Linked DNA regions of Homo sapiens: regions 1 and 2 are each linked to region 3. Evidence: fine-mapped expression QTL. A gene starts in region 3. Each other region holds a variant in brackets. All regions are shown on one strand. Distances are between the middles of the regions. Region 1 overlaps GPRC5D-AS1 (GPRC5D and HEBP1 antisense RNA 1). Region 2 overlaps GSG1 (germ cell associated 1). Region 3 holds the start of FAM234B (family with sequence similarity 234 member B).

The links. PIP is the estimated chance that this variant, and not a neighbour inherited with it, causes the effect. A credible set is the group of variants that fine-mapping cannot tell apart.
Region 1: its variant is the best candidate, but not a certain one, in a credible set for the expression of FAM234B in unexposed skin (GTEx, PIP 0.79).
Region 2: its variant is the best candidate, but not a certain one, in a credible set for the expression of FAM234B in pancreas (GTEx, PIP 0.71).

What each region holds. Positions count from the first base shown.
Region 1 is chr12:13,009,235-13,011,999 of GRCh38, forward strand. The region is part of intron 2 of GPRC5D-AS1 (GPRC5D and HEBP1 antisense RNA 1); the gene reads left to right. Among named protein-coding and RNA genes, the nearest start is that of HEBP1, 10 kb to the left of the region's middle. The variant C/T (reference allele first, on the strand shown) is at 1,407.
Region 2 is chr12:13,092,989-13,095,753 of GRCh38, forward strand. All of the region lies in intron 1 of GSG1 (germ cell associated 1), which reads right to left. Among named protein-coding and RNA genes, the nearest start is that of GSG1, 9.3 kb to the right of the region's middle. The variant GCTTAT/G (reference allele first, on the strand shown) is at 1,111.
Region 3 is chr12:13,043,269-13,046,033 of GRCh38, forward strand. It overlaps FAM234B (family with sequence similarity 234 member B), which reads left to right and starts at 1,113. Exons shown (of 13, transcript NM_020853.2): 1 at 1,113-1,172. The coding sequence starts at 1,136.

The sequences.
Region 1 (2,765 bases), 34 kb before region 3:
CCTGTTGTTGCACATGAGAGGATTTTCTTACTTTTTTATGGCTTAATAGGATTCCATTGTGTATATATACTACATTTTCTTTATCCATTCATCTGTTGATGAACACTTAGGTTGATTTCATATCTTGCCTACTTGAAGTACTGTTCATTAAGCAAAGCCAATAGCTTTGATTCAAGTCAAGTACTATGAATAGTGCTGCAATGAACATGGATGTGCTGATATCTCTTCAACACTGATTTCATTTTCTTCGAATGTATACCCAGAAGTGGGATTGTTGGATCACATGGTAGTTCTAATTTTAATTCCATGAGGAACCTCCATACTATTTTCCAAATACACAAAGGATGGAAATTAATGCTGTACTAATTTACATTCCCACCAGTGGTGTGCAAGGGTTCCTTTCTCCACATCCTTGCCAACACTGGTTGTCTTTTTTGTCTTTTTGATAATAACCTTTCTATGACGTAGGAGGTGACATCTCACTGTGGTTTTAACTGGCATTGCTCTGATGATTAGTGATGTTGAGCCTTTTTCATAAACCTGTTGGCCATTTGTGTCTTCTTTCGAGAAATGTCTAGTCAGGTCAGGTCCTTTGTCTATTTTTTTTTTTTTTTTGATACCGAGTCTCGCTCTGTTGCCCAGGCTGGAGTGCAGTGGTGTGATCTCAGTTCACTGTAACTTCCGCCTCCCGGGTTCAAGTGATTCTCCTGCCTCAGCCTCCGAGTATCTGGAATTACAGGTGCATACCATCATGCCCGGCTAATTTTTGTATTTTTAGTAGAGACAGGGTTTCACCACGTTGGCCAGGCTGGCCTTGAACTCTTGACCTCAGGTGTTCTGCCCGCCTTGGCCTCCCAAAATGCTGGGATTACAGGCGTGAGCTACTGCGCCTGGCCTGCCTGTAAATTTTTTTAAAATTTTTTATTTATTTTCATTTTTTGAGACAGTCTCGCTGTGTCACCCAGGCTGGAGTGCAGTGGCACAATCTCGGCTCACTGCAACCTCCACCTCCTGGGTTCAAGTGATTTTCCTGCCTCAGCCACTTGAGTAGCTGGGATTACAGGCATGCGCCACCATGCCTGGCTAATTTTTGTATTTTGAGTACAGACAGGTTTCACCATGTTAGCCAGGCTGATCTCGAACTCCGGGCCTCAAGTGATCTGCCCACCTTAGCCTCCCAAAGTGCGGAGATTTTAGGCGTGAGCGACTGCGCTCAGCCATATTTTAAAAATAAGATTATTTGTTGTATTGCTATTGAGTTATTTGAGTTCTTTATACATTTTTTGGTATTAACCCCTTATCAGATGTATAGTTTGCAAGTATTTTCCCCTCTTTTGTAGGCTGTCTCTTCACTCTGTTAATTGTTTGCCCTGCAGAAGCTTTTTAGTTTGATATAATCCCATTTG[C/T]CTATTTTGCTTTTGTTGCCTGTGCTTCCACCAGCATTTCTCATCCAGGACAGGGCTCCTCCCAGGGTGTCTGACTGTGGGCATGCTCCCCTCTTCAGGGTGGGCCCACCCTGAAGCACTCCCTGCCCACAGTGGCATGCTTTTTCTTCTGTCTCCCATCAGAACATAGGGTACCAGCAATATTTACTCACTAAGAAATTGTTTCCTTTCATCTTTCTTTCTAAATTATAAAATGAAAAGTCATCTTCTTTAATGTTCAACATTTCTAAATGTCTGATTTGTTTAAATTTATAAATAATTTATAGATTTAAATTTACTGATTTGTGTTAAATTTATTCACCACTGTTTATTTACTACCTACCCAAGTTCCCAGGTAGTCTACGGGGTTCTAAACTGTAGCAGTGAACAAAACAGACGAAAACCCCTGCTTTACTGGAGTTTACATTTCGGCGTGGGAGACAGGCAGTAAATAAACACATTCATAAATATGTAATAGGTCAGGTGGTGTGTGTTGAAGGCCAACGTATGTCAGTGTGGGCCACTTTAGATAGGGTGGTGACATTTCAACAGAGACTCCCCAAAAAGTGAGGGCATCACTGAGAAGATAGCTAGGGGAGAAGTTTTCAAGTCAGTCGGAAAGGCACGTGCAAAGGCCCTGAGGTGGGAGAATACCTGGCATGTTGAAGAAAGCAAGGAGGCCAGTGTGGCTGGAGTTTACTGAGAAGGAAGAAGGTTACAGGCAAGGGCTCCAGAACCAGGCTGCCTCGGTTCAAATCCCTGCTTACAAGTCGGGTGACCTTGGGCGACTTATTTACTCTCTCTTTGCCTCAGGGCTGTCATCTGAAAAATGGAAATAATGATAATGTGTACCTCAGAGGCTTGTTATGAGGATTAATAATTGCAAAGCACTTAGAACAGGGCCTGGCACATAGTAAGTGCTCTGTAAGTGAATCTTAACCTAAAAAAGGAGAAGAATGATGAAAAATCCAAATTGAAGCAACTATTTCAATATCATAAAATTACTAATCTATATTCTTTTAAAATGTCAATGTCTTAAAAGACAAGAAAAGGCTAAAGAATTGATTCAAATTAAACGAGACTAGAGAGACACTACAAGTAAATGTCATCTGTGATTATGGGCTGGACCCTGTGCCAAGAAAAAATACTCTAAAGAACATTAGTAGAATTAAATTGATTAAGTTAGCATACAGACTGTAGATTAGATAAAAGTATTATATCAATATTAAAGTTCCTGACATTGATAACTATATTGTGGTTGTGTAAGAGAATATCCTTGTTCTTAAGAAATACACACAGGGGTATTAAGGGGATAAGCGGACCTACTATCAAATGGTGTAG
Region 2 (2,765 bases), 50 kb after region 3:
TTTCACCATATTGGCCAGGCTGGTCTTAAACTCCTGATCTTAGGTAATCTGCCCGCCTCGGCCTCCCAAAGTGCTGGGATTACAGGCGTTAAGCCACCACGCCTGGCCGGTTATATAAGCTTTTAACTTTATGTAAAATAACATTAATACATATAAATATATAATTATATAATTAATAATTGACAAGGCAATTGATAACTTCTGGAAAAGTTTTATGTAAAGTCTAAACTTTATATAAAAGTTTAGAAAAAAGAATTGGGAGCATTCCAAATGCTCTTTGTGATAATCGTTTTTGGCTTTGTCTTCACTGACAGGTAGTAGCACTGACTTGCTGAAGCATTTGCTATTGTAACAAAGTGAGCTATTGGTGTCCTTTTCCCTGCATTACAGATTCCTCTGAAAGGAGTCATAGCAATGAATATTAAACTGGAAATCTCCGGGGGAAGCAGATGGATGCTTTGGGGCCTGGAGGATAAAAGAGGGCAGTGAACCTACTGGGATGTGGGGCTATTGAAACCTTTGGAAAGGAGATGGGGCTTATGGTTCTGGGAGAGGTAGCAGTCGGGCCCAGCTTCCATCCACTGCCACAGAGACAATAGAGTTTCAAATGCGAGGTGGCTGTGTGGTGCCTGTGTAGGCTGGACACCAGGTTTGGTGTCCACAGAGCCATGGGTAGGGTGTCGGCAGCCAAGCCCTTGGTCAGTGGAGAGGAACCTGGAGGGCCGTGTCTTCCAGCCTGGTGCAGAAGTGCCTGCCTCACAGTGGGGACATAGGGGAGGCTGCCGAAAGAACTGAGGCCCCAGATGGCTCTGGCAGGAGCCCCTACTCTCCATGTCATTTTCAGCCTAAGAGAAGAGGAGGCAAGCTAAAATATGACTGGTATTAGACGGCCAACTTTGCTGAGTGGTGGCTTGGAGCCAGATTTAATTGGACTTAGAGAAGTAATTTGGCAAGTCTCTCACTTTGTGTTAGAGCAGTTTATACAGTTATATTAATGCACATGGAACAGAAAAGAAGCCCATGGTTAGTTGCTGACAGACGCTTCTTAAAGTAAACCTTCTTGAGCTTTCCAGGGGATCCTTCATATCAGAATTAATCACACTTAAATCT[GCTTAT/G]CTTAAGAGCCATAAATAAAACCATAGCTAAATGGACAGGTCCATAAATTTCCCTCCCTTATCACACCCAGCTTACTGTTTCTACATTTAAGAGAGAACTTTACCTGAGAAATGAAACAATTTGTTCTTCAGAATTTCCAGGGACTAAGACAGTGCATATCACAAAATGCTTATTATTTATGGCAATAAGAAATACACAAAGATCATATGTATGTAAAACCAATATGTAAAACATGATAAAGACAACTTCTGAAAAGCAATCTGCTAATATGATTTTACTTTTAAAGGCACTCAACAAATTAACTCTGCCAAGAATTGTCAGTTCTTGCAAGACTCTGGGTGACCTTGACTAAGGACAAAAAATCCGCAGCATCTGGGAGGAGGAAAGATTTTCTGTTGGTAGACACTGAAGTCGCGTGTTGCCCAGTTCCCCTTTCCTAAAATGTTTTCATCTTGGTTTTAGTTATGAAAATCCTATGGGTTTTAGTCATCATTCTCTTACTGTGAGTCATCCTTTCTAATAATTCTTACATTGCTTGAATAAGAAATGGACTTCCAGGTAAAACATCTTCACTAACTATTTGGTGTAAAGACTGACCTAAAGACTTAGGCAATTCTAACTTTTGTGACCTCAGCATTCATTTTTCAACAATCATTTTCATTCTGGTTTGGAAATTTGTCTATTATCACATCAGATTTTAACCCCACACTCAATCCATTTCAAGTTATACTTGCAAGATTTTTACTCCACATTCAATCCACTTCAAGTTATATATATTTGCAAGTTATTCTCGGGGTTATTCAGAAATAAGAAAGAATAACGAACCCCATACTAAGATACACCCACTTTGTGGCACCAAGGTGACAACCAATTTAAGGAAGAGGCAATTTGAGAAACAAAGAATAAAAAAGAGCTTGGACTGAAGCTCAAAGAGGTTCCTTCCAGAAGGAGTGTCCACCAGGGAGAGACACAAGGAACCTCATTCAAAAATCATCTTCTTGATATCGAATGATCATCTCATTCAAGAATTTTCAAGAATTATCTCCAACACCTATAGTACCATGCCCTTTGTCACATACTTTACTCCTTTCCCCAAACATGCCTTTTCCTGCTAGGGTCGGGATACCTCTTGAATTGGAAGAACAAATCTAATTTTGCAATGGTTTCCATAAAGTGATCCTGAAGAAGTAATGGCCATAAGAACAACTCTATCTTTGTGTATGCAACAGATCCCATGCCAAGGTGACTCTTTACTCGCTAGAAAAGGGACAGAGTGGTTTCTCTAACACTTGGGCCCTTAGATCATTAGGAAGTGCGTAGGCGCCAATGTATAATCAGTAACCCTTACATCAGCATATATTAACAGAGTAACCCAGAATTAGCATAGGCTAGGAAGGACAACAGATCGATGAGGCAGGTGCACTTCTTAAAAGAGCCAGGTACAAAATAGCTGTAGACTGCATCCTTTGAGCAATAGGAGGGGAAGCCGGTTACCTTGGCCATGGTCAGCGTCTTGCAGCTTGTCTGGAAGAACCGAAGGATGCCATCTGCACTCCAAGTCCCTTTGGTTTAATGTTGCAAGAATGCAAACTGTCTTCCTACCCTCCTCCCTCTCCTCCTACCCCTCCCCTTCTATCTCATATTCTTTG
Region 3 (2,765 bases):
GCCTGGTCCTGAGGCAAGCCAAGTTCAGAAGTCAGAGAGGGCCTGGGTGTTTGCATTTTCCACAGTGACCTCAGTGGGTGTTTGGGCAGCAAAAGTATTCACATTCCACTCAGTAGCTAGAGAGGAACACACAGGTATTCTCTATGTAAAAGGTAAGGATCCTGATTCATTTGGCAGCTGCTTTGAATTTTTTTCTTTAATTGAAAAGAAAGTACATTAAATTTGAGAAATACTATTCTAAGCTGCAGTTCCTATGTTAAAATGGAAAAAAGTTATGGAGGGATGAAGGAGATTTCCAGAGGGACAAGGAAGACAAAGTGGGGGAAAGCTCAGGGAGCCAAGGAAGGAGGAATTCCTGGGCATCGGGCTCTCCGCAAAAATCATTCAGGCAAAGCTGGGGTGATTACGGGGAGCGTGCAGATGCCTTAAAGGTCAAGCATTGAAATCTGAGGAGCTGGAGATGCTGCATCTATTGGATGTATGTACACAGTCGGATCCTCCTTCTACACCCTTCAACTAGAAGCTGCAGCGTAGGGTGCTGAGTAGACACCTGTAAAGAACTGGGAGCAATAAATGAGGGTTCGAGCTCCAGGAAACTTCAACTTCTACCTAAGAAGCGTAATAGAAACACTCTTACTAGGTGCCTACTGTGTGCTGTGTGTTTTAAACAGGTCGTATCATTTAATTCTCATTGCAAGCTTGTGAAGTAGGTAGTATGTCTTTAATTAAAAAAAAGCAGCGGCAGCTCAGTCGCCCCAAGGGACTTGCCCAAGATGGCCCAGCTAGTAAGTGATTCAGGCAGGATTCAAATCCAGTCTGCCTGATTTCAAAGCCCACGCACATTGCACAATCCACACCTCCTTAAATATCTCCTTCGAATCATTTTCACTGCAAGCTTACGGGGTATTTTCTCCCCATTTCACTGACGAGGCAAGTGAGACTCAGAGTGGTGAGGTGACCTGCATAGGTAGGGTGGGAGAAAAGCCTGCGGAGCGTGTACTCTGGCTTGGCCTCCCTCAGCTCTGTCCCCAGCAAGCGGGTCCCACCTTTCCCGGTCCCAGCCCCACGCACCGCCGCTCGGAACTACACTTCCCGGCAGAACGCGGGCGCGCGCACGCGCACCGGGGCCTCAGCCATGGCGACCGTGCTGTCCAGGGCGCTCAAGCTGCCGGGTAAGGAGTCGCATGCTTGCGACCACCCAGTCCCCGCCGGTGTTGGAATAAGGGGAGGCGAGGCTCTGGGGGCGAGGCCGGTCGGGCCCTGGCCTCAACCCAGACTCAGCTGCAGGCGCCCGGTGCCGAGGAGGGTGCAGTCCCTTGGGGCTGGGGTCTCTGTGCCACCAGAGGGCGAGAGGGGCGCCCAGCGGGGCAGGGGTCTCGGGCGCGGGGCGAACCCGGAGACGCGCGGGGAGAGGGCGCCGAGCAGGTGTTACGGCGGGGAATGTCAGAACGCCGGTCGCCGCTGTCCCGAGGGGAGGCTGGCGAGAGGAGCATCCTTCCCGAGCGCCGCGGACCCAGCACCGCAGGGACTCCGGCGCCTTCTGTCTTGGCTGGACCTGGGCGGGGGCGGCGGGACGGCGAGTGGCCCTCTGTGGATCATCCCCTCCACCTAACGGCAGCAACGACGCATCCATGAGGCAGGTGGGACAGGTATTTACGTCCCTTCCTAGTTTACAGAAGAGAAAATGAGAGTTATTTGGCTAAGTGAATTGTCCAAGGTCTCACAAGTATTGGGAAAGCTCGGCCTTGAACGTCAGGGGTCTTTTCACTCTAAATCCTGAGCTTTTGATTCCACTTGGTCAGTCTCCAGCTGCCGAGATTAAGCATGGGAAATGATTTGGCACCTATAAGTTGAAGATAATGTATGGAATCTTCTTTAAGGCAGCATTAGGGGTGATGACAACTTCCAGAGCTGATTCAGTACTTCGGGCAGCAGCTCCAAGTTTTTTTTCCTTTTTTTTTTTTTTTCCTCCTAAACCTCCAGAGTAGGATTGTACTGTTAGAAAGTTGATATTTAAATAAAAGTATATTTATTCCACCCAAGTAAATTTTAAACATTAGGCTTTAGAAAAATTGATGGCTCTACCTAGGTAAGTTTTAAGCATTAAGCTATAAACATTTATTTGCTGATAATTTGTATTAGAGGGAAAAGCAGTTGCTTTCATAGCTATCTCTAGAGAGGGCTATTTGGGTTTTGGTTGGATAGCTAGTTTGAGCTTGCAGGGGGATTACAGGGTCCTTGTTCTCAAGGAGCTTCCAGTATGCTACCCTGAAGCGAACCTTGCCATTTGGATGACGCTAGGTTGGATATTAATTTGCGTTTCTGTCCCCAGACTTCATGACCTCAGACAGATTATTATTTTTTTTAATATGGGCTCATTGGAACATTGGAAGGAACACTGATAGCATCTGCCTTGGAATGTGTGCATAACACTGGAATTAAAGGAGAGACGTGGCCCTTTACCTGCAGGATTAATTTTTTACTTTTTTACTTTGTATATCCTTAGTGTAGAATGATGTCCTCCCAGAGGGGTAATAAGATGTCAGACATTTAGCTTTATTTCTTTTTTTTTTTTCTTTTAGAGTCCTTTTTTAAAATTTCAGTGTAGGTCATTGTTATTCTCTAAGAATGAGAATGCATGAAAATCTTGCTTTAGCAACTCTTGAGGTCTTTTGTGTTCTTATGCCCCAAGGCTGTGGTGTTATTACTCCCTGGAGTATTAGTTGTAGGAACTGGTTGGGGTTCCCATAGTCCAGTCCATGGGC